Linked DNA regions of Homo sapiens: region 2 is linked to region 1. The links come from fine-mapping of genetic effects on gene expression. A gene starts in region 1. The other region holds a variant in brackets. All regions are shown on one strand. Distances are between the middles of the regions.

Region 1 (11,376 bases):
AAGGTTGGGCAGCCAGTTATCTGTCCCATGTGAGCACCCAGCAGAGCGCTGGGCAGGGCTGGGGCAGATTTCCCTCCAACCCTGGGGCAGAGACTTGAGAGGCAGAGGGCACACACTGCCTGCCCTGGATGGACAAGCCCTGGAGAGAGGGCCACACTGAGAGACGGCCAGCCCCCTGGAGAGCCCTTTCCCATGGAACTGGCTGGTATTACCAGGAATTGCTCCCGATCTTTGAATAGCTTCTCTAGTTCATCAACCCGCTGTAAAAGTACCTGGAAGAAGAGTTCAGGAAAGGAGAATGACAGTGGCCCCTACACACGCACACTCACATGCACACACACACAGATGCGCACACACACTCTCACACTCAGACACACACATGCATACACGCACATTCACACACTGACTCAGTGCCAGGAGACGAGGAAAGGGGGAATTTGTGTGGCTCTTATGGAAAGGGAGGGTTTCTTCTTCTACTTGGGTTTTTTTGGTTTCCTTTTTTTTTTTTTTTTGAGACAGGGTCTTGCTCTGTCACCCAAGCTGCAGTGCAGTGATGCCACCACAGCTCACTGCAGCCTCAACCTCTCAGGCTCAAGCGATCCTCCCACCTCAGCCTCCTGAGTAGCTGGGACTTCAGGCATGCACCACCACATCCAGCTAATTTTAAACATTTTTTTGTAGAGATAAGATCTTGCAATGTTGCCCAGGCTGGTCTTGAACTCCTGGGTCCGAGCAATCCTCCAGCCTCGGCCTCCCACAGTGCTGAGATTACAGGCAGGAGCCCCTGCTTTCTACCTGGTTTTTACCTGGCCAGTCAGCCCAGGCTCCTGGGTCTTTTCCCAGCCAAGTGCAGGAAGGGAAGTGAGATGCAGTGGGGGACCTGGCTGGTAGCATGGCAGGAGTAAGTGCTGCTGCAGGGATGGGACCCTTTGGTCCTGGGATTCAGTTTGCTCCAACCCACTTGTGAAAGCCTGTAGGATGAGGCCCACCTTGCCTTACAAGGAAGGAAGGGTGCCAGGTACCTCAACAGTAGCTGAACATCTGTGCTATCTAAAGAGAAAAGCACCTCAAAAGAACCAAAGCAAATCGCTACAACATAAGGTGCTATCATATTTGGGATTAAGAAAAAATATATTAATAAACAAAAATAAAACAAGTTACTTTTTATAACTTTTGCAAACTTCTAGAATCTAAGATTACGTAAAAATTAAAACAAAAGGCCAGGCGCAGTGGCTCTTGCCTGTAATCCCAACACTTTGGGAAGCCGAGGCAGGAGGATCACTTTAGGTCAGGAGTTCGAGACCAGCCTGGCCAACACGGCAAAACCCCATCTCTACTAAAAGTACAAAAGTTAGCTGGGCATGGTGGTGTGCACCTATAATCCTAGCTACTCGGGAAGCCGAGGCAGGAGAATTCCTTGAACCCAGGAGATGGAGTTGCAGTGAGCCGACAATGCACCACTGCACTCCAGCCTGGGTGACAGAGTGAGAATGTGTCTCAAAAAAAAAAAAAAAAAAAAAAAAACCCAAAAAAATTAAAACAAAAAAAACCCCCACCACACTTTAAAGTTTGAAAAGGAAAGCAGACATGCTTCCCAGAGCAAAAGTGAGTTGGTGCTGCGGTCTCGAGACCTGGGGTGATATGGCAGGAGGGCATGAGCGGCCAGGGCTCCCCTGCTGGGGCTTGGCCTCTTCTTCCTGCCTCTTCCCGGCCTCTTTTTCCCCTCCTGTCTCTCCTCTTGGCCTCCCCACCCAGCTGCCTTCCTAGTTGCTTCTGCTTTTTCTTTCAGAACCAACCTAAGGTGGCTCTGAGACATGCACGTGTCTATTACCTCCTGGCGCTGACCTGCGTTGCTTCCTGCTGTTCACTGGACAATACTTATACTCAATGATTACATGCATTTGTCCCTCCAAGAAAACAAAAGTCCAGTTGAAGGCAGGGCTCAGTGGCTCACGCCTGTAATGCCCAGCACTTTGGGAGGCCGAGGCGGGCAGATCACTTGAGGTCAGGAGTTTGAGACCAGCCCCGCCAACATGGTGAAACTCCTTCTCTACTAAAAACACAAATATTAGCCAGGCGGGGTGGCGCGCGCCTATAATCCCAGCTACTCGGGAGGCTGAGGCAGGAGAATCGCTTGAGTCTGGGAGGCGGAAGTTGCAGTGAGCCGAGACTGCACCACTGCATTTCAGCCTGGGTGATAGAGTGAGACTCCTTCTCAAAAAAAAAAAAAGTCCAAGTGAAACGGTCCCCTGCCTGCTGTGGCTTGTGTCATGGCCATAGGAAGCTGAGGTCCAACTCTCCATCCTGACTCCCCTTCTCTGGGAGCCTTTGTCCTCAACACGTATCTCTTCATGTCCTTATTCATTTTAAAAAGGGAATTCACTCTAAGAATCTTCTGAGAAGTTGCCGGCCCCACTCTGAGCCAGCTCTGGGTCCTTGGATGTCTGATAAGTGGTGGGCGAACCTCTCCCGTAAACAGGGGCTAGGAAGGAGGGGGTGGGATGGGGCCACTACACTTAGGAGGTGGGGTCCCCAGGCCCCTCCAGCTCGGGGAGGCCCTAGGCCTTTTGGTGGCGTTCTTTTAGGATTTTCACGTCTTGCAGCCCCGTGGACTGCAAGGTAGAGCATGGGCCACTCTATTTAGCCAGTCGCACTGAGGTCTGGCACCTCCTCGGTCCCCATCCCCTCCGTCCCCACCACCGCTCACCCCTCCAGGGTGGTGGGGACTCGGCTAGGCCTGGAGGGCGGCCTGGAGGAGGCAGACGGCCTGCGCGTGCCTCCGTGTGCGTGCTCACCCTGGCAAAGCTGAGCTCCTCGGCGGCGTCCTTCATGATACTCCCAGTCCGCACCCTATCGAACGCCCGCACGCCCACCTCCTGCTCCTCCGGCCACTCTAGCGCGGCCAGGTCAAGCCCGCTGGCCTGGGAGAAGTGCTGCACGTGCGTGGCGATGCCCTGCACCTGGCCGTCCACACGCTTGAGCTGCTTGCTCAGGTCCTCCACCTGGCCGCCCAGGTCCTTCACTTGGCTCTCCAGCGCTGACGAAGGCGCCTGGCCCACGCCCCTGCGCTTCTCCCGGGGCGCCCCCTTGGGCACCTCCTTGGGCGCGGGCAGGTGCGGGATGCTGAACGAGCTCCGGACGGACTGCAGCGAGCGGCTGGGCTCGGGCGACGAGGGCTGGAAGTCGATCCGGGTATTTTGGAGGTCGAGGTTCTTGAGCATGGCCACGATGAGCGTGTGCAGGGCCGTGAAGTTGACGGCGCCCACCTCTGGCGTGCCGATGGAGAGGTCCGCCAGCTCCCGGAGGGAGACCGTGGTCGCGGGCGGCATCGTGGCTGTCAGGAGCTGTGCGCCGCCGCGGGGCGCCGGCCAACCACTTCCCGCTCACTGCACGCCGCGCCTTGGGGCCTTTCGGGGGCCCTGCGAGGTCCTCGGGGCGCCCCTGCCCCGGGTCCGGCCGAGTCACTGGACAGAGCTCCTGCCTCCAGGGAATCTGCGCCTCCGCTCCCCGGCGGGGTCCGCGATGGCCACCCCTCCGCTGTCTGTCGCTGGCCTCGGGTCCCCGAGCTGGAGCCCTGGACTCCCAGTCCCCGCGCCGGCGGACGTTTGAAACGTGGGGGCCCCCGCGTGCCCTGAAGATTCCACGTAACAACACGCCTCCCTGCGAGCCACGGGGGCGGGGGGAAGTAAAGGCCACCACAAGGATCACAAGGGGAGCCTTGGCAACGGGCTGAGGAGGCCTCCTAAGATCCAGCTAGACTCCATCCATCCCCTTAACCTAGAAAGGCCAGGATTCACTCACTCTTGGCGGGGCCACATAAGGAAAGACTTGAGGGTTTCCTGGCAACCATGCTTTGTGTCATCAGCTGCGTCCATTCCAGAGTGGTGGCCCCATGTCTATGGCCCCATGTCTAAGGGATGCAGTCCTGGGGCCCTGGTCCCCTCAGACAGTCCACATATTTTGTTCAATCAAAGGTGAAGCAACTTGGAAAAGACAACCCACTCACTATTCAGGCAGTTCCAATTAGCCACTAGATGACTAACTGGTGGCTAATTGTCCCTTTTCTGTGCTGCCATAATTTTTTTTTTACTTTTGAGAGGGAGTCTTGCTCTGTCGCCCAGGCTGTAGTGCAATGGCACGATCTCGGCTCACTGCAACCTCTGCCTCCCGGGTTGACATGATTCTCCTGCCTCAGCCTCCCGAGTAGCTGGGATTACAGATGCGTGGTACCATGCCCGGCTAATTTTTTGTATTTTTAGCAGAGACGGGGTTTCACTATGTTGGCCAGGCTGGTCTTGAACTCCCGACCTCAAGTGATCGACCCACCTCGGCCTCCCAAAGTGCTGGGATTACAGGTGTAAGCCACCGCGCCCAGCCTGCCATAAATTAATTGATCTCAAAAAAACGGCCAGGCTTGGTGGCTCACACCTGTAATCCCAGCACTTTGGGAGGCCGAGGCGGGTGGATCACCTGAGGTAAGGGGTTCAAGGCCAGCCTAGCCAACATAGTGAAACCCCTCTGCTAAAAATACAAAAAATTAGCCGGGCATGGTACCGCGCATCTGTAATCCCAGCTACTCGGGAGGCTGAGGCAGGAGAATCGCGTCAACCCGGGAGGCAGAGGTTGCAGTGAGCCAAGATCGCACCACTGCACCCCAGCCTGGGCGACAGTGCAAGACTCTGTCTCAAAAAAAAAAAAAAAGAAAAGAAAAGAAACCACTCACCTGGTCAAGCGCCTGTGCTTGAGCTCATTACAAAGCAGGATTAAACAGCACGAGACAAATCTGGTGTTAACAATTGAGACATGACTTCCCCATACAAGATTCTTCCCAAAAACGTATAAATAAAACTTCCTAACAGAAGCACAGCAAGGCTACTTAAAGAGAACCTATGAATGTGTGCCATGCATGGCCAGCCTCCTCCGTGAGCTCTGCATCTGCAGATTTAACCAACCACGACTGAACACGTACAGATTCCTGTCATGATTCTCTAAATAATACAGCATGACCACCATCTACACAGGATATTGCAGTAGGTATTACAAGTCATCCAGGATGTGCATAGCTTATATGCAGATACTACACCATTTTCTATCAGGGACTTGCACATCCATGGGCAGGAGGTTGAGTCCTGGAACCAATCACCCATGGATTGTAAGGAATAACTGTACTATTTTAACTACTGTTCAAGTTCAGATTTTTCACTTCAGCCTGAGAGGTACTGTTTATTTAATTGAAGGATTTTCGATCATCATTATATTCCAATAACTTGGGACACAGTAGGCCTTTAAGGGGTTATCAAAATAACTAGTTCTTTGCAGTCTTTTTTTTTTTTTGAGATGGAATCTTGCTCTGTCACTTGGGCTGGAGTGCAGTGGCACAATCTCAGCTCACTGCAATCTCTGCCTCTTGGGTTCAACCAATTAATTCTCCTGCCTCAGCCTCCCGAGTAGCTGGGATTACAGGCGTGCACCCCCTCCCCCAACACCCGGCTAATTTTTGTATTTTTAGTAGGGACAGGGTTTCACCATATTGGCCAGGCTGGTCTCAAACTCCTGACCTCAAGTGATCTGCCCACCTCGGCCTCCCAAAGTGCTGGGATTACAGGCGTGAGCCATGATGCCTGGCCTCTTTGTAGTCTTTTTATGCTTTTAACTTAGCTAGGCTAATTTTTGTATTTTTAGTAGAGACGGGGTTTTGCCATGTTGGCCAGGCTGGTCTCAAACTCCTGACCTCAGGTGATCTACCTGCCTCGGCCTCCCAAAGTGCAGGGATTACAGGCATAAGACACGATCCCTGGCCTGTTTTTTTTTTTTGAGACAGGGTGTTGCTCTGTCACCCAGGATGGATGGCAGTGGTACAATCATAGTTCACTGCAGCTTCAACCTCCTTGGCTCAGGCAATCCTCCCACCTCAGCCTCCCAAGGTAGCTGGAACTACAGGCACATGCTACCAATGCCTGGCTAATTTTTGTATTTTTTGTAGACATGGGGGTTTCGCCATGTTTCCCAGGCTGGTCTGAAACTCCTGGGCTCAAGCAATCCTCCTTGCCTCAGCCTCCCAAAGTACTCAGATTATAGGTGTGAGCCACCACACCTAGACTTTTTTTTTTTTTTTTTAAAGATTTAAAATACAGTATTCAACAAGGATTTAGCTTCAACACTTAGGAAGAGGGTGGAACCTGGGAAAGTGTTTGTGTCCAGCCACAGACCTGACTGCTGTTCTGTATCCATGGTCTTCTGCTGTCTAATGAAAAGACTAGCAAGACAACAAATTATTTTATTTGCAACTTCAGAGCCACTCAGATACCCAGAGGTGGGATGCTATTTTCTAATCTGACATCCTTGGAAGATGTAACAACATGAATGCTTCATTTTTCAATGGCTGTAGGCATAACAATTTCTGAAAGAAAAATACGATTCTCTATAAAAGACTTGAAGTTGATTTGGGAGAGGCCAACTGGATAGTAATAGGGCCACAGGCGCTCAGCTTCCCTAACCAGGTTCAACATCAATACCTCCATTTCCCTGGAGCTGAAACAACTAAATGAACATTATAGAGTTAAGACTTTATGTGCCTTTAACTCCTCTTTAGTATCAATAAGATTTTCAGATTATTTTTAAGAAAGCAGCTAGAACTTTTAAGGAACAGGGCTGATGACAGCAGACATGTAAGGCCATGTTATGATATTTATCCATTAGCTCTGTCTTCTTCCTGACTCTTTTAATCCCTCCTCCCCATCAATCCGGGCAAAAGAAGATATCTAACTCCAGGCTGTTTCGAGTCCTCCCTTGCAAGGAAACACTGTATCACTCATGGCACTGCTTTTTCCATGTTTCCCTCAGGAGGTCCAGGGTCGAGACCCTCGTGAAAGCTAGTCATCCACAGTGATGTTTCGGAAAAGGTAGGCCATGGACTCTCCATTGTGGATTCTCCGAATGGCTTCAGAAAGAATCAAACTGATATCCACAGTCTTTATCTTGGGACATTGCAGCTTCTGAACCTCATGAGGGACAGTATTCGTCACCACCACCTAGTCACACAGTGATGGAAAACAAACGCTGTTACTGAAGTCTGTTCTCCAAGCTGGTTACACAGAAAAGCTTATCTAACATTGAGTTCCCACAGCCTAAGTTCCAAACTACAAAACCTTGTTCCACCGAGTATAGTTTTTATAAACCAAAATTAACTAATTTTATGCAAAGGAAAAGTTACATGGCCTCAGAACACAAGACAAAAATCTTAGGAATGGCATGGTCTCCATGCAGAAACACAGTGAGCCCCAGTGCTATGCAAAACTCTCAGATCATAAGGGAAGAATTCCAGCCTCAAGAGAAATGCTCCTAGGGTGTCAAATTAAAGTACCCAAGCAAACCGTTATGCAAATAGACATATACAGACCCTCAACATAACTCTCAACTTATGACAGGGTTATGTCTGGATAAACGCATCATTATAAGTTGAAAATATTTTAAGTAGAAAATGCATTTAGGCCGGGCACAGTGGCTCATGCTTGTAATCCTAGCACTTTGGGAGGCCGAGGCAGGTGGATCACCTGAGGTCAGGAGTTTGAGACCAGCCTGGCCAACATGGTGAAACCCCGTTTCTAAGAAAAACACAAAAATTAGGCCTGGTGGCCGGCGCGTGTAATCCCAGTTACTTGGGAGACTGAGACAGGAGAATCGTTTGAACCCGGGAGGCAGAGGTTGCAGTGAGCCGAGATTGCCACACTGCACTCCCAGCCTAGGCAACAGAGCAAGATTCCATCTCAAAAAAAAAAAAAAGCATTTAATACGCCTAACCTACTAAACATCATTAACTTGGCCTAGCCCTACCTTAAACATGCCCAGAACAGTTACATTAGACTGCAGGTGGCAAAATCATCTAGGGCAAAGGCTTTCATTTTATAATAAAAGCGATTATTTTAAAATAAAGTGTCTCAAGTAATTTATCGAATACTATACATTACATCGTAATTGCAATGGTTTTGCATCATCATAAAGTCAAAAACTTCTAAGTTGAACCATGGTAAGTCGTGGACTATCTGTATTCCTAAACATGTATCTGTCCCAACGAACTGCTAGCCAGCAAAAGCTAGAAAAGCTATAGACAGATTAAGCAATTTAGTATTGACTGAATCATTTTATTATTCCCAGAAAACACAGCAGTAAATCTTGGCTCAAGATTTAGAAGCAGCCTGACCTCGTCTACGGAGGACTCCTCAATCAGGCGAGGGGCCTCTGCAGACAGGATGCCGTGGGTGGCCATAACATAGATCTTATAGGCGCCTCTCTCTTTCAGGATCTCCGCGGCAGCAACAAAACTCTCCACATCGTCAATAATGTCATCCTGGGAGGAGAACAGAGTGAGTTGGTAGGAAAGAAACACCCTCTAGCCCATACTGTCAATGCACACACCACTCTACTCTCTTCTGCACTCAGTTTCAGAGGATTTCTGATGGAAAATCAGAGCTGTGTGCCTGGGTCAAAGAACGAGCATCCAGAAATGGCAACAGAAGCACCTGACAGTACCTTGTGTGTCTGTCAGAGGCGGGCGCAGTCAAGCACCTGTGACATTACGGCTGGAGCTGAGGATTGCCAACACTCATTTTCCTGTCTCACGTTTCTGGTGAATCCCACATAGCCAGCGTTCCATTTATTTTTTTTTCAAATAGACTGTGACATGAGAAGAAAACTGAAATAAAGTGTGCTACTGCAAAGGACTCATGACCCACTAGCCAGCAGATATTTAGAGCTGGGAAAAAAAGTATGTCAACATGCAGAACGAGTCTGCACGGGGACACCCATTCTTACTTGTGAAAACGGAACAGCTCATCTTCAGTTCATCTTTCGGCCCTAACGCTCAAGCATGATTAGGTGAGCTGGTTTAAAGAACCTAGAATCCACATGATGAAGGTGAAGGTGCTGAATTTTCTCACGGGAGTACTGTGCTCATTTCCTATCTGTAGGTTATACTTTAATGTATGTTCACCTGGATACAGGTTTCTGCCACTTGGCACAAGGGAGTTTGGGTGAGAAAGGATACATGGATCCATTCGGATCATCGTTCCTAGAAATACAGTCCCAGAGTGGACAACCTACTGACCAAGAGCCAGGAGTGCCACCTCTGCACATGGATGACATATAACCATACCACGATGATTGCGATGCGGCCTCCAACATCTCCAACTACAGTTATCGGTGGCTTCTCTTTGGCCATCATCACTAGCAAAACAAAACAAATTACAAGATCTCAGTCATTCATGTATCACTAGAGAAATGTAATCACAACCTAATTCCCTGGAAATGGTGGCAAAACCACTATACAGACAAAAAACAAACAAACCATGCAAATTCCCCCTCAATGAACCTGCAATCTCTCAGAAACAGCAGCATTGGCCAAAAGAAATAGAAGGCATGCCATACATGTTACTTTGAATTTTCTAGTAGCCACATTAAAAACAGATGAAATTAATACATTTTATTTTATGCAATTCCCAAAATATTATAATTTCAACATGTAACTGATATAAAAATGTATGTATGTATGTATGTATGTATGTATTTTTTGAGACGGAGTTTTGCTCTTGTTGCCCAGGCTGGAGTGCAATGACGCGATCTTGGCTCACTGCAACCTCCGCCTCCCAGGTTCAAGCAATTCTGCCTCAGCCTCCCGAGTAGCTGGGATTATAGGCATGCGCCACCACACCCAGCTGAGTTTTGTATTTTTAGTAGAGATGGGGTTTCTCCACGTTGGTCAGGCTGGTCTCGAACTCCTGACCTCAGGTGATCCACCCGCCTCAGCCTCCCAAAGTGCTGGGATTACAAGCTTGAGCCACCACGCCCAACCTGATATAAAAATTAATGAGATGTTTTACACTTTTTTTTCTCAGAGGGGATCTTGCTATGTTGCCCCGGCTCATTTCAAACTGGAAGCAAACAATCCTCCTACCTCAGCCTCCCAAAGTGCTAGGATTATAGGCATGAGCCACCGCACCCAGCCTTACACTTTTTTCCTATCAAGTCTTCTCTACTTGGTGTGTGTTTTATACGCACAGCACTTCTCAGTTGAGACGGGCCGTGTCTCATGAGCTCAGCAGCCAGCACATTGCACTGCACAGCACAGCTGGAAAGACAACGAACCAGCAGAGCATGGAAGATTCTGCCAACACGGAGAAGCTGCACCGCAGTGCTGTGTGGATAGAAACCCCACTCTCACAGAGACTGACAGAGACATGCAGAAGGAATGCCGCTCTGCAGAAAGCGAAACAGCGAAAGGCTGCCAGATCATGAGATGGCTTTATGTTATTTTCTTCCAAAGTCACCTTATTTGGACAGTGTAACCTTACTATCAGATAACTGCACTACTGACATAATCAGAGTTTCCTCAAAATCAGGAACTTGAAGACAATAACTCCAGGCCCATCATCTTTTCCTGATTTAATTGGTGCTTAAAGTAGAGACTTTTATCTGACTGCAAAATCTGCATCTGAAGAAAGGCTATGAGTGTACAAAGGAAACTACAGGATAAAGAAAGGAAATAAGATTTTATCCTCAAAAGGAGGTTAGTAAACAGAGAAGAAAAACAAAGACTACTTCAGAAGAACAGGCTAAGTATTCTTTCTTTAAACTTTGTTATTATTCTGAAATATTTATTAGGCTAGTAGTGGGGGAAGCGAAAGAGAATAAAATTCAGGGTAACAAGAGTTTAGTGACTACCAACAAACAATTTTTGCAGATTCCCAACAGGCACTGTGTATCTCAAAGAACAGGTGTTTTTCTCTGTATACTGGCAAATCAGTTGAGCTGAAATTCACCACTACTTTATACATTTCAACAAACATATATTTCCTGATTTCACATCCTAGAAACAAAGACAACTTCTTGAATTTGGGCAAGACAAGAAGGCTTTGCATATAAAATCACTTAAAATGGGGGGAGGGGGGTTTCAAACCACCAACATTAGGAGCAGCTTCCTGAGATTCTGTTTTTAAATTAAACCATGTAAACACGCAGTTATGTTGACCTATCCGCTTTTTTTTTTTTTTTTTTTTTTTTTTTTTCTTGAGACAGAGTCTCACTCTGTCTCCCAGGCTGGAGTGCAGTGGCACGATCTCGGCTCACTGCAACCTCTGCCTCCTGGGCTCAAGCGATTCTCCTGCTTCAGCCTCCTAAGTAGCTGGGATTACAGGCACGTGCCACCACATCTGGCTAATTTTTTGTATTTTTAGCAGAGGTGGGGTTTCACCACGTTGGCCAGGCCACCTTTGAGAGGCCAAGGCAGGCGGATCACCTGAGGTCAGGAGTTCAAGACCAGCCTGGCCAACATGGTGAAACTCTGTCTCTACTAAAAATATAAAAATTAGCCAGGCATGGTGG
Region 2 (11,765 bases), 24 kb after region 1:
ACCATTCCATTATTAAAAAACAACAAGACAGCATATATCTACATAGTCGATAACTCCTAGCCATTCATACTACTTAAAACTTTCTTCAGGGCCAGGTGCAGTGGCTCATGCCTGTAATCCCAGCACTCTGGGAGGCTGAGGCGAGCAGATCACCAGGTCTGGAGCAGATCACGAGGTCTGGAGTTTGAGACCAGCCTGGCCAACATGGTGAAACCCTGTCTCTACTAAAAATACAAAAATTAGCTGGGCGTGGTGGCACACACCTGTAATCTTTGCCACTCACGAGGCTGAGGCAGGAGAATTGCTTGAACCCAGGAGGCAGAGGTTGCAGTCAGCCAAGATCACGCCACTGCACTCTAGCCTGGGTGACAGAGTGAGACTCCATCTCAAAAACAAAACAAAACAAAACAAAACAACAACAACAAAACCAACAAAACCAACAAAAAAAAACTTTCTTCAATTTACAAATAAAATAAAAACACAGAGCTCATCTTACATGGCAACTCCAGGCCTGGGTGCACAGTAGCATTTTTGACCATAGGCGGGGAGTGACGACCATCGTCCATGTCCAGTTCCGTGCACTGAGCTTCCCCGTGAATGACGGCCAAACCCAGACGCAGTCTCTCCGCATAGGACTGGGCCCTAGAAGGACAAAGGGAAATGGTGAAACTGACAGGAAGAAATCCCACGCATCACTACGGCATCATTTTTTAACCATAAAATGAAAATATTTAACGTTTCAGGGACATACAAAGGCATTATTTATATAAATGAGAATGTGAGGCCCAGGCCAGCATGTAAATGACTCAAAGGGCACGTGAGTTAGGGTTTGGGATTGTATCTGATTCTAGACATTTTTTTTTTTTTTTGAGACAAGGTCTCACTGTCACCCAGGCTGGAGTGCAGTGGCGTCAACATGGCTCACTGCAGCCTCAACCTCCTGAGGCTCAGGTGATCCTCCCACCTCAACCTCCCGAGTAGCGGGGACCACAGGCATGTGTTGCCACAACTGGCTATTTTTTGTATTTTGTAGAGACGGGGTCTATGTTGCCCAGGCTGGTCTTGAACCCCTGGGCTCAAGCGATCTCCCGCTTTGGCCTCCCAAAGTGCTGGAATTACAGGCGTGAGCCACCCCGCCTGGCCCTGATTCTAGATAATTTTGATTCTATCCTTTGTCCAATATTCTGATAGTCATCTTCAGAAGAAAGAACAACGTTAAAAACCATTGCCTGGGCCGGGCACAGTGGCTTACGCCTGTAAACCCAGCACTTTGGGAGACCAAGGCAGACAGATCACTTGAGGTCAGGAGTTCAAGACTAGTCTGATGAACATGGTGAAACCCCATCTCTACTAAAAATACAAAAAACTAGCCAGGAGTGGTGACAGGCGCCTGTAATCCCAGCTACTGGGGAGGCTGAGGCAGGAGAGCTGCTTGAACCCAGGAGGCGGAGGTTGCAGTGAGCCGAGATCGCGCCATTGCACTCCAGCCTAGGTGACAGAATGAAACTCCATTTCAAAAAAAAAACAAAAAAAAAAACCATTGCTTGAAAAATGCTCATAGCCTCATTGCTTTCCTTTCTCTGAGAACTTGAAGGAACTTTGTTTTCCCAGAGGAAAGCTGAGCAACTCAGCGATCATGTGTGCTGTCTGGAGGCTGGAGATAAAGCTGTGTGTGGCATGGGACATGACAACGATGGAGGGGTTAACATGAGAGCCAGTGGGCTTTCAAAGGCCACGAGTGACAGCCTCTGGATTCCAAAGCAGCTCATTCTGACTTCGGGAGCACTCAGGAGGGATCAGGACCCATGTCTAGCTTACTTACCTCTTTGCAGCATCAGGAGACTTAGCTACAATGACTGCATTTCTGTAATTTGGAATCTAGATTTGAAGGAAAAATAGAAAATACTGAAAAGTTATCAGAAAATAACACCTGGATGCTGGTATTCAAGTTTTCCCTCTTATAATGATCCAAACTAGTCATCAAATATGCTAGAATTTTAGTCACAAGTTTTAGATTTTTCAATATTTATCAATTAACATCACTGGAAAAAGCACTCCTACGTCAAGAATTTTTTAAAAATAATTCTTAAAACATTCATTTTAGAAAACATAAGCAAATTGCTAAAGATACGTAGAAAAAAAATCTGTTTTTAGTGTCTTTTAAAGCTATGATCGTCCACGACTAAAGCTGACCCTGTCTGCTGCCTCAGGCATTGTGACTTAAGGGAGAGCTCATTTGATGTGCCTTCCAGTAACGAAATCTGATACCAGAGAAAAACTAAATAAGATCTCTTTTGAGGACAATGGGGTGTTTGCTGGTGGTTCCTCACTTCTTCCTGGATATACTGAAGCAGGAAAGGTGAGGCTCTAAGGTTGTCCACAGGAAAGCTGAAAAAGCCTTGTATTTCCTTTTGATGAAGATCCATAGTGATAATGTGAGTTAAACCTGAAATTTTAAAACAAAAAATTACAAAGTTCACCCCTACAGGTAAATGGCTACAGTGGACCTAAACTAGATGCTCAACTCCTGCTTCCTACCAGCAGACTGAAGACGGGGTACTGTGATTAAGCACTGCAGTCACAGGCTTGATTGTTAACCTTAATAAAGCCTTAATGTAGAGAAGGCTACAACCTTCCACATGGACAAAGAACTAAAGCTAAGAAAGTGGGAATTATTGACTTTTGGCTTGGTCCAGAAAATTGAGAAAAGAATAATGTGGCAGAAGCAAAAATATGAATATGGAATTAATACCGAAGAGATGGAAAAAACAGTAAGGCCTTGATTACAGAATCTTAAAAGAAAGGATAAAGAACTGTAGCGAAGGCAAAAAGTAGCAAGAACACAAACGCAAAGTAATATACATATTAGAAGAAAAGAAACTCATATAACACAAAGATATTGAAGCTTAGAATAATTTCTGTATGTAACAAAGAATGTTTCAAGTATTCTTATAGAAAAACAATGAAGAGATACTCTTATAATCAAGAGTACTGAAGAGGAAAAGGTACATATATATAAACACATTGCAAATGGTCAAAGGTCACAGCAAAACTTCCAGGGTGTAGAACCAGTATTACTTGTTCTTTCCAGAAACACTATAGTTTTTTGGAGAGGATGAAATTCACATACAGTTGACCATCTGGATCTATGGGTTCCACGTGTGGATTCAACGAAACACAGACTGAAAAGGTAGTTAGGCCTACAATGGTTGTGTCTGTACTGAGCAGGTATGAAACTTTTTTCTCATCATTATTCCCTAAACAAGACAGCATAACAACAATTTATATAGTGTTTATATGGTATTAGGTATTTATAAATAATCTACAGATGACTGTGTTGGTTATATGCAAATACTATGGCATTTTATATGGAAGACTTGAGTATCTTTGGGTTTTTGTATCTGCTGAGGAGCCGGGGAAGCGGGAGATGGGTTCCTGGAACCAATCCTATAAGGACATTGAGGGAGGACCATACATTTCTTTCCGAGGACCCAAATATACGTTAAAGTTTTAGAACAGACATCAGATGAATAGAAACCCAATTGTAAAATATTACATTGATTTACAGGCCAGAAAGCGTGCCCCCGCCACACAAGGAGAATAAAGCAATGAAAATGAGCCACTATGTAGAAAGGCAAGGGTGGGGGAGAGGGAGTAAAAGAAAATCCAGCTTGAATACTATGAACAAAAATGGAATTTAGCTAACAAAGCAGATATAGAAATCTAGACCTGAAGATCAAAAGATCACATAAGAATGCCAAGACTGCCAGCTAAGAATTTAGCGATGACAAGATGAAATAGAAAATATGTGACAGATGACAGAGAAGAGAAGACACTAAAGCAATGGTATTCTAAAGTAGGACAAAGCGAATAAGGGAAAAAAAAGAATTTCTAACCGAGCTCACATATCCTTAGCCAAAACTGTTCAAAAGGAAACAAACACTCAGATCCCAGATTGGATATCTGAGGTATGAGCTAAGTCCAACTAGGAAAGAGCCCTAAAGGATCATGCTGGAACCCCAGGGCCCCCGCGCACACTCACCTGCTTTCGCCAGCATGGATGCTAGCAGCTTGCACACAATGGAACCCCTCTTCCTCATCTTGCTCTGCTTGCTGTAGGGGAAGTAGGGGATGACCCCAATAATGTTCCTGGCACAGGCAGTCTTCAGTGCGTAAGCCATGATGAGCAACTCCATCACAGCTGTATTCACATCTCTGAAACAGTCAAAGTTTGTATTTGGGGATTAATTCCATGTATCAACCCTAGAAAAGATCTTGACTTTATCAACTTAACATGGGCTGCCCAGATGGGTGTTGTGGGAATTTTACCATCACACTAGCTTACAATGGCACCTCATGAAGGCAGGGGAAGCTTTCTGACTTTTTGTAGCTGAGTAAGCCCTAGCTTTCATCTGAGGTTACTCCTATTCACAGCACAGTTAACCCACCCTCACATTTGCCTGGGTCTCCTGTGTCATACCCCGTTACTGCAGTGACATCTGAAGCAACTGCTGGTGACCAGAGTTACCCAACACCTGCTGGCAGCCTCCCAGGGATTTGGGCTTAGGCCAGCTTGAATGCCAAGGGAAACCCAACTGCCCTTCCATTTAGCTGCCATTAACAGAAAGATTTGGTCTCTTTCCATTGAGTGTGGGGAGGTCTTGGAATATAATTTTTTTTTTTTTTTTTTGAGACGGAGTCTCGCTGTCGCCCAGGTTGGAGTGCAGTGGCGCGATCTCAGCTCACTGCAGGCTCCGCCCCCCGAGGTTCACGCCATTCTCCTGCCTCAGCCTCCCGAGTAGCTGGGACTACAGGCGCCCGCCACCTCGCCCGGCTAATTTTTTGTATTTTTAGTAGAGACGGGGTTTCACCATGTTAGCCAGGATGGTCTTCATCTCCTGACCTTTTGAGATGAAGTCTCACTCTGTCGCCCAGGCTGGACTGCAGTGGTGTGATCTCAGTTCACTGCAACCTCCGCCTCCCAGGTTCAGGCAATTCTCCTGGCTCATCCTCCCGAGTAACTGGGATTATAGGCGTGCACCACCACACGTGGCTAATTTTGTATTTTTAGTAGAAACGGGGTTTCTCCATGTTGGTCAGGCTGGTCTCGAACTCCCGACCTTAGGTGATCCGCCCACCTCGGCCTCCCAAAGTGCTGGGATTACAGGCATGACCCACTATACCCAGCTGGAACTTAATTTTCGAAAACCTCCCTGGAGGCTGGACGCAGCCCAGCCAATATGGTGAAACCTTGTCTCTACTAAAAATACAAAAATTAGCCAGGTGTGGTGGCACGTGCCTGTAGTCCCAGCTACTGGGGAGGCTGAGGCAGGAGAATCTCTTGAACCTGGGAGGCAGAGGTTGCAGTGAGCCGAGATCATGCCACTGCACTCCAGCCTGGGCAACAGAGTGAGGCTCTGTCTCAAAAAACAAAACAAAACAAAACAAACAAAAAAAAACCTCCCTGGACCTTTCTTTCCCTGACATATAAATTCCTGACAAAGATTACCCAGAGAGACAAAAAATGAAATATGAATCTGGAAGATATTAGAAGGAAAGGCAATTTCCAATGATTATAAATTTGGATTGCTAGCTTTTGCCAAGGATAATCAAACCTAATGTAGACTCTGCATTCATTCATTCATTCATTCATTCTTTCTTTCACTTACTCACTCACTCACTTATTAAGAAATGGTCTCACCCTGTCACCCAGGCTAGAGTGCAGTGGTACAATCTTAGCTCACTGCAGCCTC[G/A]AACTCCCGGGCTCAAGTGATGCTCCCGCCTCAGCCTATCAAAGCACTGGGATTACAGGCATGCGCCACCATTCCCAGACAGGCTCTTCCTTTAAAAAGGGGTGAGAGCCTTGAAATCCTTCCAGGACCTCTCTCAGTATTCACTTCTCACATTAGCTTCCTCCTGCTCTTCCTGGACTATCCACGCATCCTCAAACATCCCCGTCTTGGGGTGGGGGTGGGGGTCAGGACTGTATCTCCCTTCCCTTCCCCACGTCATCAGTTCCTACCCATGGCAGCAGGTTCTTCAGGTACCAGTTCTTGAACAATTATCAGCTCTACACTGACACGTAGGTGATGCTGCCCTCATTACAGCAAAGCAGAAAGCCTGCCATACACACAGCAGAGTTAGCGTTTGCTGAATAGGTGGCTGAATGAAATACTCAGCAAGAGATGCTTTCTAGCTTGAAGGGTAATCGAGCCATTTCCTTCCAGTCTCTTCCAATTTATGTTTACACTTCTCTCTAAGGCAGAGTGCATTTGGGAGTGAGCGATTTCAAAGACATCCTTTTATTCTGACAATGTTTTCCACTTCCAGGTTCAATTCCTGGAACTTCCAATTTCACCCTTGTAATTTGGATTTTTCTTAACTATTGCAAGCATTCTATGATTAAAAAAAACAAAAACAAAAACAAAAAATGTCTCCCTGAGGAGACTGATGCAGGGCTCAACTTCAAGACAACTAAGACATTCCTTTTAGACTGCTAATCCATTCCATTGTTTTCCAGTTACCTTTTATTTTTTCTCTCAATAAATTGGAGCATTTTTCTCCTTCAGACTTCCAAATTAATAATGCCAAGTCTGGCATCAAAAGGTCAGATAATCTTTGGTAGAATCAAAGCAATTATCAAACACTTTCAAGAAAGTTGGGAATTCATAATAGTCAATTTTAGTTCATCATCCATGCAACACATATTTAGGGGGCAACTTGAGGCAAGCACTGTGGTAGGTAAACAAGGCAAACCACCTCTAGAGAAAGCCAAAGGCCATCTGGGACCACTCTCGAGGTACTCATTCTTCCCAAGAAGGAGCACATCTGACTCATGGAAGAATGTGTGGTCCCCTTCCCAGAGACTCTTTTGTTTAAAAGATTTTTTTTCTTTTCTTTTCTGTTTTGTAAGAGGCAGGGTCTCACTATGTTGCCATGGCTGGTCTTGAACTCCTGGGTTCATGCAATCTTCCCATCTCAGCCTCCCAAAGTGCTGGGATTACAGGCATGAGCCACCACACCCAGGCTGGCTGTGGCTTCATAAACCAGAACCCAATATCCACAATATGTTTGGAGTCAGTTAATTTAGTAGCTTCTGTAAGCGTTATCTGTTCAAGTAGTGAGGTTTTTTTTGTTTTTTGTTTTGTTTTGGAGATGGAAATTCGTTTTTGTCACCCAGGCTGGAGTGTAATGGTGCGATCTCAGCTCACTGCAACCTCTGCCTCCTGGGTTCAAGCAATTCTCCTGCCTCAGCCTCTCAAGTAGCGGGGATTACAGGCACCCACCACCATGCCCAGCTAATTTTTGTATTTTTAGTAGAGATGGGGTTTCACCATGTTGGCCAGGCTGGTCTTAACTCCTGACCTCAGGTGATCCAACCGCCTCGGCCTCCCAAAGTGTGTTGGGATTACAGGTGTGAGCCACCACACCCAGGCTCAAGTAGTGGGTTTTTAGCTGGCTTTGTCATAGACAATACACAAGTGGACCAAGTGCAGTAGTTTATGCTTGTAATCCCAGCACTTTGAGAGGCCAAGGCAGGAGTATTGCTTGAAGCCAGGAGTTTGATACCAGCCTGGGCAACATAGCAAGACCTGGTCTCTAAAAATAAAATAAAATTTAAAAATCAGCCAGGCACGGTGGTGCTCACCTGTAGTCCTAGCTATTCGGGAGGCTGAGGTGGGAGGATCCCTCAAACCCATATAATGAGCTGTGACTGCACCACTGCACTCCAACCTGGGCAACAGAGTGAGACCCCATCTCTCAAAAAACACACAAAAAAATAAAAACAAAATCAAGTAAAATACACAAGTGTATGACACCATGAGTTTTGGAGAACACAGCACAAGGGAGGCCCAGATAATAAAACATTAATGAACAAGATAAACAATTTTTGAGAAGTCTTGATTTCAGGGTAACATTCCTTTCATTAATAAGCAATTTCTGGGCCGGACGCGGTGGCTCACGCCAGTAATCCGAGAGGCCAAGACAGGTGGATCACCTGAGGTCAGGAGTTAGAGACCAGCCTAACCAACATGGTGAAAGCCCGTCTCTACTAAAAATTCAAAACTTAGCCGGGCATGGTTGCAGGTGCCTGTAATCCCAGCTACTTGGGAGGCTGAGGCAGAAGAATTGCTTGAACCTGGGAGGCAGAGGTTGTAGTGAGCCGACATCATACCACTGCACTCCAGCTTGGGCTACAGAGCGAGAATCTTTCTCAAAAAAAAAAAAAGGCCAGGCACGGTGGCTCACACCTGTAATCCCAGCACTTTGGGAGGCCGAGGCAGGTGGATTACCTGGGTCGGGAGTTCGAGACCAGCCTGACCAACATGGAGAAACCCCCGTCTCAACTAAAAATACAAAATTAGCCAGGCATGGTGGTGCATGCCTGTAATCCCAGTTACTCAGGAGGCTGAGGCAGGAGAATAGCTTGAACCTGGGAGGTGGAGGTTGTGGTGAGCCGAGATCATGCCATTGCACTCCAGCCTGGGCAACAAGAGTGAAACTCCATCTCAAAAAAAAAAAAAAAAAAAAAAAAAGAGCAATTTCCCATGAGGTTTTTATTTTCCATTTTTCCAAGGGATTCAACATCCTCCAGCCCAACGCTAAAGAAAGCTCCATACCTCACCCCTTATTGGTCAGAAAGGTGACAAAAGGGGCTTTGTCACATTGGCTTTACCCATTCACTGAGAGATACCGGACAAATTGGACACCAGGCAGTTACTTTGTGAACTAGCAGGGCGAAGGGAAATCGGCTGGCAGTCTCTGCTTTATCTGTTCCCTAAGAATGTTGCAAGTACACCCTGGCTAGCTCTTGTAGTCTTTATCTCTAAGTAGGACATTCTTAATTGTTTTACCAACTACTTTTCTTTCTTTTTTTTAAATAGAGAAAGGTCTCACCATGTTGCCCAGCTGGTCTTGTACTCCTGGGCTCAGGCAATCCTCCCGCCTTGGCCTCCCAAAGTGCTGGGAGTACAGCTTGAGCCATCATGCCCAGACAACCAACTACTTTTCTTTCCCCTAAGAAAACCACATCCTATATTAAGTCCAGCCCTTACTGCTCTAGCATTTTGGACAGGCAAAAACTAACCTGAGGTGTGCTCTCTTCAGCAGCACATATACTAAAATTGGAATGATACAGAGAAGATTAGCATGGCCCCTGTGCAAGGATGACACGCAAATTCGTGAAGTGTTCCATATTGGAAAACAACAACAACAACAACAACAACAAACTAACCTGAGATGAGGAAACAGGCATGGTATACGCATTCATTAAACTAGCCAGGCTCGCAAAAAGAGAAACCACACCACAGCTGGAAGTAATGGGGGAGAATTTACCCTGCTCCCAACTGTAACAATTAATCATCTGCAGCAGCTGGGAATTTTTTGTTGTTGTTTTGAGACTGAGTCACTCTGTCACCCAGGCTGGAAGGCGAGAGTGCAGTAGCACCATCTTGGCTCACTGCAACCTCTGCCTTCCGGGTTCAATCGATTCTCCCACCTCAGCCTTCCGAATATCTGGGATTACAGGCACCTGCCACCATGCCTGGTTAATTTTTTGTATTTTTAGTAGAGACGGGGTTTCACCATGTTGGCTAGTCTGGTCTCAAACTCCTGACCAACTGATCCACCTGCCTCGGCCTCCCAAAGTGCTGGGATTACAGGTGTGAGCCACCGTGCCCAGCTGTAAATGTTATTTTAATGAGTCTGCTTACTTTACATCAACACACTAGAACTTGTACATAAACATAAAAATTAACCTTTAAAATATACTTCATAAGCTTCATATTTTACTTAGTTCCATTGCTTGGTATATCTGGAAAATCTCTGAGTATCGCACAGTTCAATTACCCAAAATAATCATTTTGTTCTGAATGGCTTTTTGCCATTTCCAAAAATTAAACCTATCCTCAACGACCAAAAGGTTGCTATTATTAGAACAGTCAAAAGAAATATGCTGCAAGTTTGGAAGCAGTAGTTCCAAAGCTATTCCAAGCAAAAACAGCACCAAAAAAAGGTATCTATGTGATTTTAGAACAACAGCTCTGAAGGCAACTAAGCTTATTTTAATGTCTAAGCTTTGGTCTGTTTGCCTAAAATTAGCCTTATTACTTTAGGCAATGCCCCCTTCCTCCCAACAACAGAAAAACCTGTAAAAGATATTCCTTCATCTATGTAACCGCAGATAATATTAAAAAACCAGGTCGGGCACAGTGGCTCATGCCTGTAATCCTAACATTCTGGGAGGCTGAGGCAGGTGAATCACCTAAGGTCAGGAGTTCGAGACCAGCCTAGGCAACATGGAGAAACCCCATCTCTACTAAAAATACAAAAATTAGCTGGGTGTGGTGGTGTGCACCTGTAATCCCAGCTACTCAGGAAGCTGAGACAGGAGAATTGCTTGAACCCAGGAGGCAGAAGTTGCAGTAAGCCGAGATTGTGCCACTGCACTCCAACCTGGGCAACACAGCAAGACTCCGTCTCAAAAAATAAATAAAATAAAATATAAAATATAAAATAAAATAAAAAATTAGGCCAGGCATGGTGGCTCATGCCTGTAATCCCAGGACTTTGGGAGGCCGAGGTGGATGGATCACCTGAGGTCAGGGGTTCAAAACCAGCCTGGCCAACATGGTAAAACCCCATCTCTACTAAAAATACAAAATTAGCCAGGCATGGTGGTACATGCCAGTAATCCCAGCTACTCGGGAGGCTCAGGCAGGAGAATCACTTGAACCTGGAAAGTGGAGGTTGCAGTGAGCCAAGGTCACACCACTGCACTCCAGCCTGGGCAACAAGAAAGAAACTCGTCTCAAAAAAAAAATTAAATTAAATTAAATTATCTGTGTTCTTTAGTTGGTACTAAAGTATCCAGTACTCAAGCACTACAAAAACTAGTTTATTGACTGGGCACGGTGGCTCACGTCTATAATCTCAGCACTTTGGGAGGCCAAGGCGGGTGGATCACCTGAGGTCAGGAGTTTGAGACCATTCTGGTCAACACTGTGAAACCCCGTCTCTACTAAAAATACAAAAATCAGCTGGCTGTGGTGGCACACGCCTATAATCCCAGCTACTCAGGAGGCTGAGGCAGGAGAATTGCTTGAACCTGGGAGGCAGAGGTTGCAGTGAGCCGAGATCACGCCACTGCACTCCAGCCTGGGCAACACAGCAAGCCTCCGTCTCAAAAAAACAACAAAAAGAACCAGTTTATTGTGACAAACCTAATAACCTTCTTTATGGGCTGCACACCCACACAAAACAACACATCCAACCTGTCTTTTTTCCAAATTTTTCCTTTCTTCTTCCATCCCTATCAGCTTAAGAGACAGAGAAAATGCCAGGTGATGATATTTTTGCTTTGATGCTCTTAAACTGAACCACTGGGAAGAGACTTGCGGCTTTTATCTCAACACCAAATACACATAAAGAAACTTCACCATCTTCAGGAGAGGGTTCTGGTTTTCAGAAGTACCCATTTATACCTATGTGCCTTTTTCAACAGGGAAGGTGCCTTTCCATGTTGACTTATGTAAAATTGTCATTGTTATTGTACAAGACTCTGCTACAACTCTATGAAGTGCTTCCTACTTCTTCCTTTGGCCAAAATTTCTTTTTTCTTTTAAATAAAAGCTGGGCACAGTGCCTCATGCATGTAATCCAAGCACCTCGGGAGGCCGGGGCAAGCAGATCAGCTGAGCTCAGGAGTTCAAGACCAGCCTGGGCAACATGGCAAAACCCTGTCTCTACTAAAAATACAAAATTAG

What was found. PIP is the estimated chance that this variant, and not a neighbour inherited with it, causes the effect.
Region 2: its variant is the best candidate, but not a certain one, in a credible set for the expression of QRICH2 in thyroid (GTEx, PIP 0.65).

What each region holds. Positions count from the first base shown.
Region 1 is chr17:76,304,670-76,316,045 of GRCh38, forward strand. QRICH2 (glutamine rich 2) reads right to left here and starts at 3,607. Exons shown (of 19, transcript NM_001388453.1): 1 at 2,796-3,607; 2 at 213-272. The coding sequence starts at 3,329. It overlaps PRPSAP1 (phosphoribosyl pyrophosphate synthetase associated protein 1), which reads right to left. Exons shown (of 10, transcript NM_002766.3): 8 at 9,152-9,222; 9 at 8,201-8,347; 10 at 4,809-7,031. The coding sequence ends at 6,873.
Region 2 is chr17:76,328,221-76,339,985 of GRCh38, forward strand. It overlaps PRPSAP1 (phosphoribosyl pyrophosphate synthetase associated protein 1), which reads right to left. Exons shown (of 10, transcript NM_002766.3): 4 at 4,043-4,215; 5 at 2,331-2,446; 6 at 1,823-1,878; 7 at 497-642. It also overlaps the pseudogene RNU6-24P. Among named protein-coding and RNA genes, the nearest start is that of PRPSAP1, 20 kb to the right of the region's middle. The variant G/A (reference allele first, on the strand shown) is at 5,754.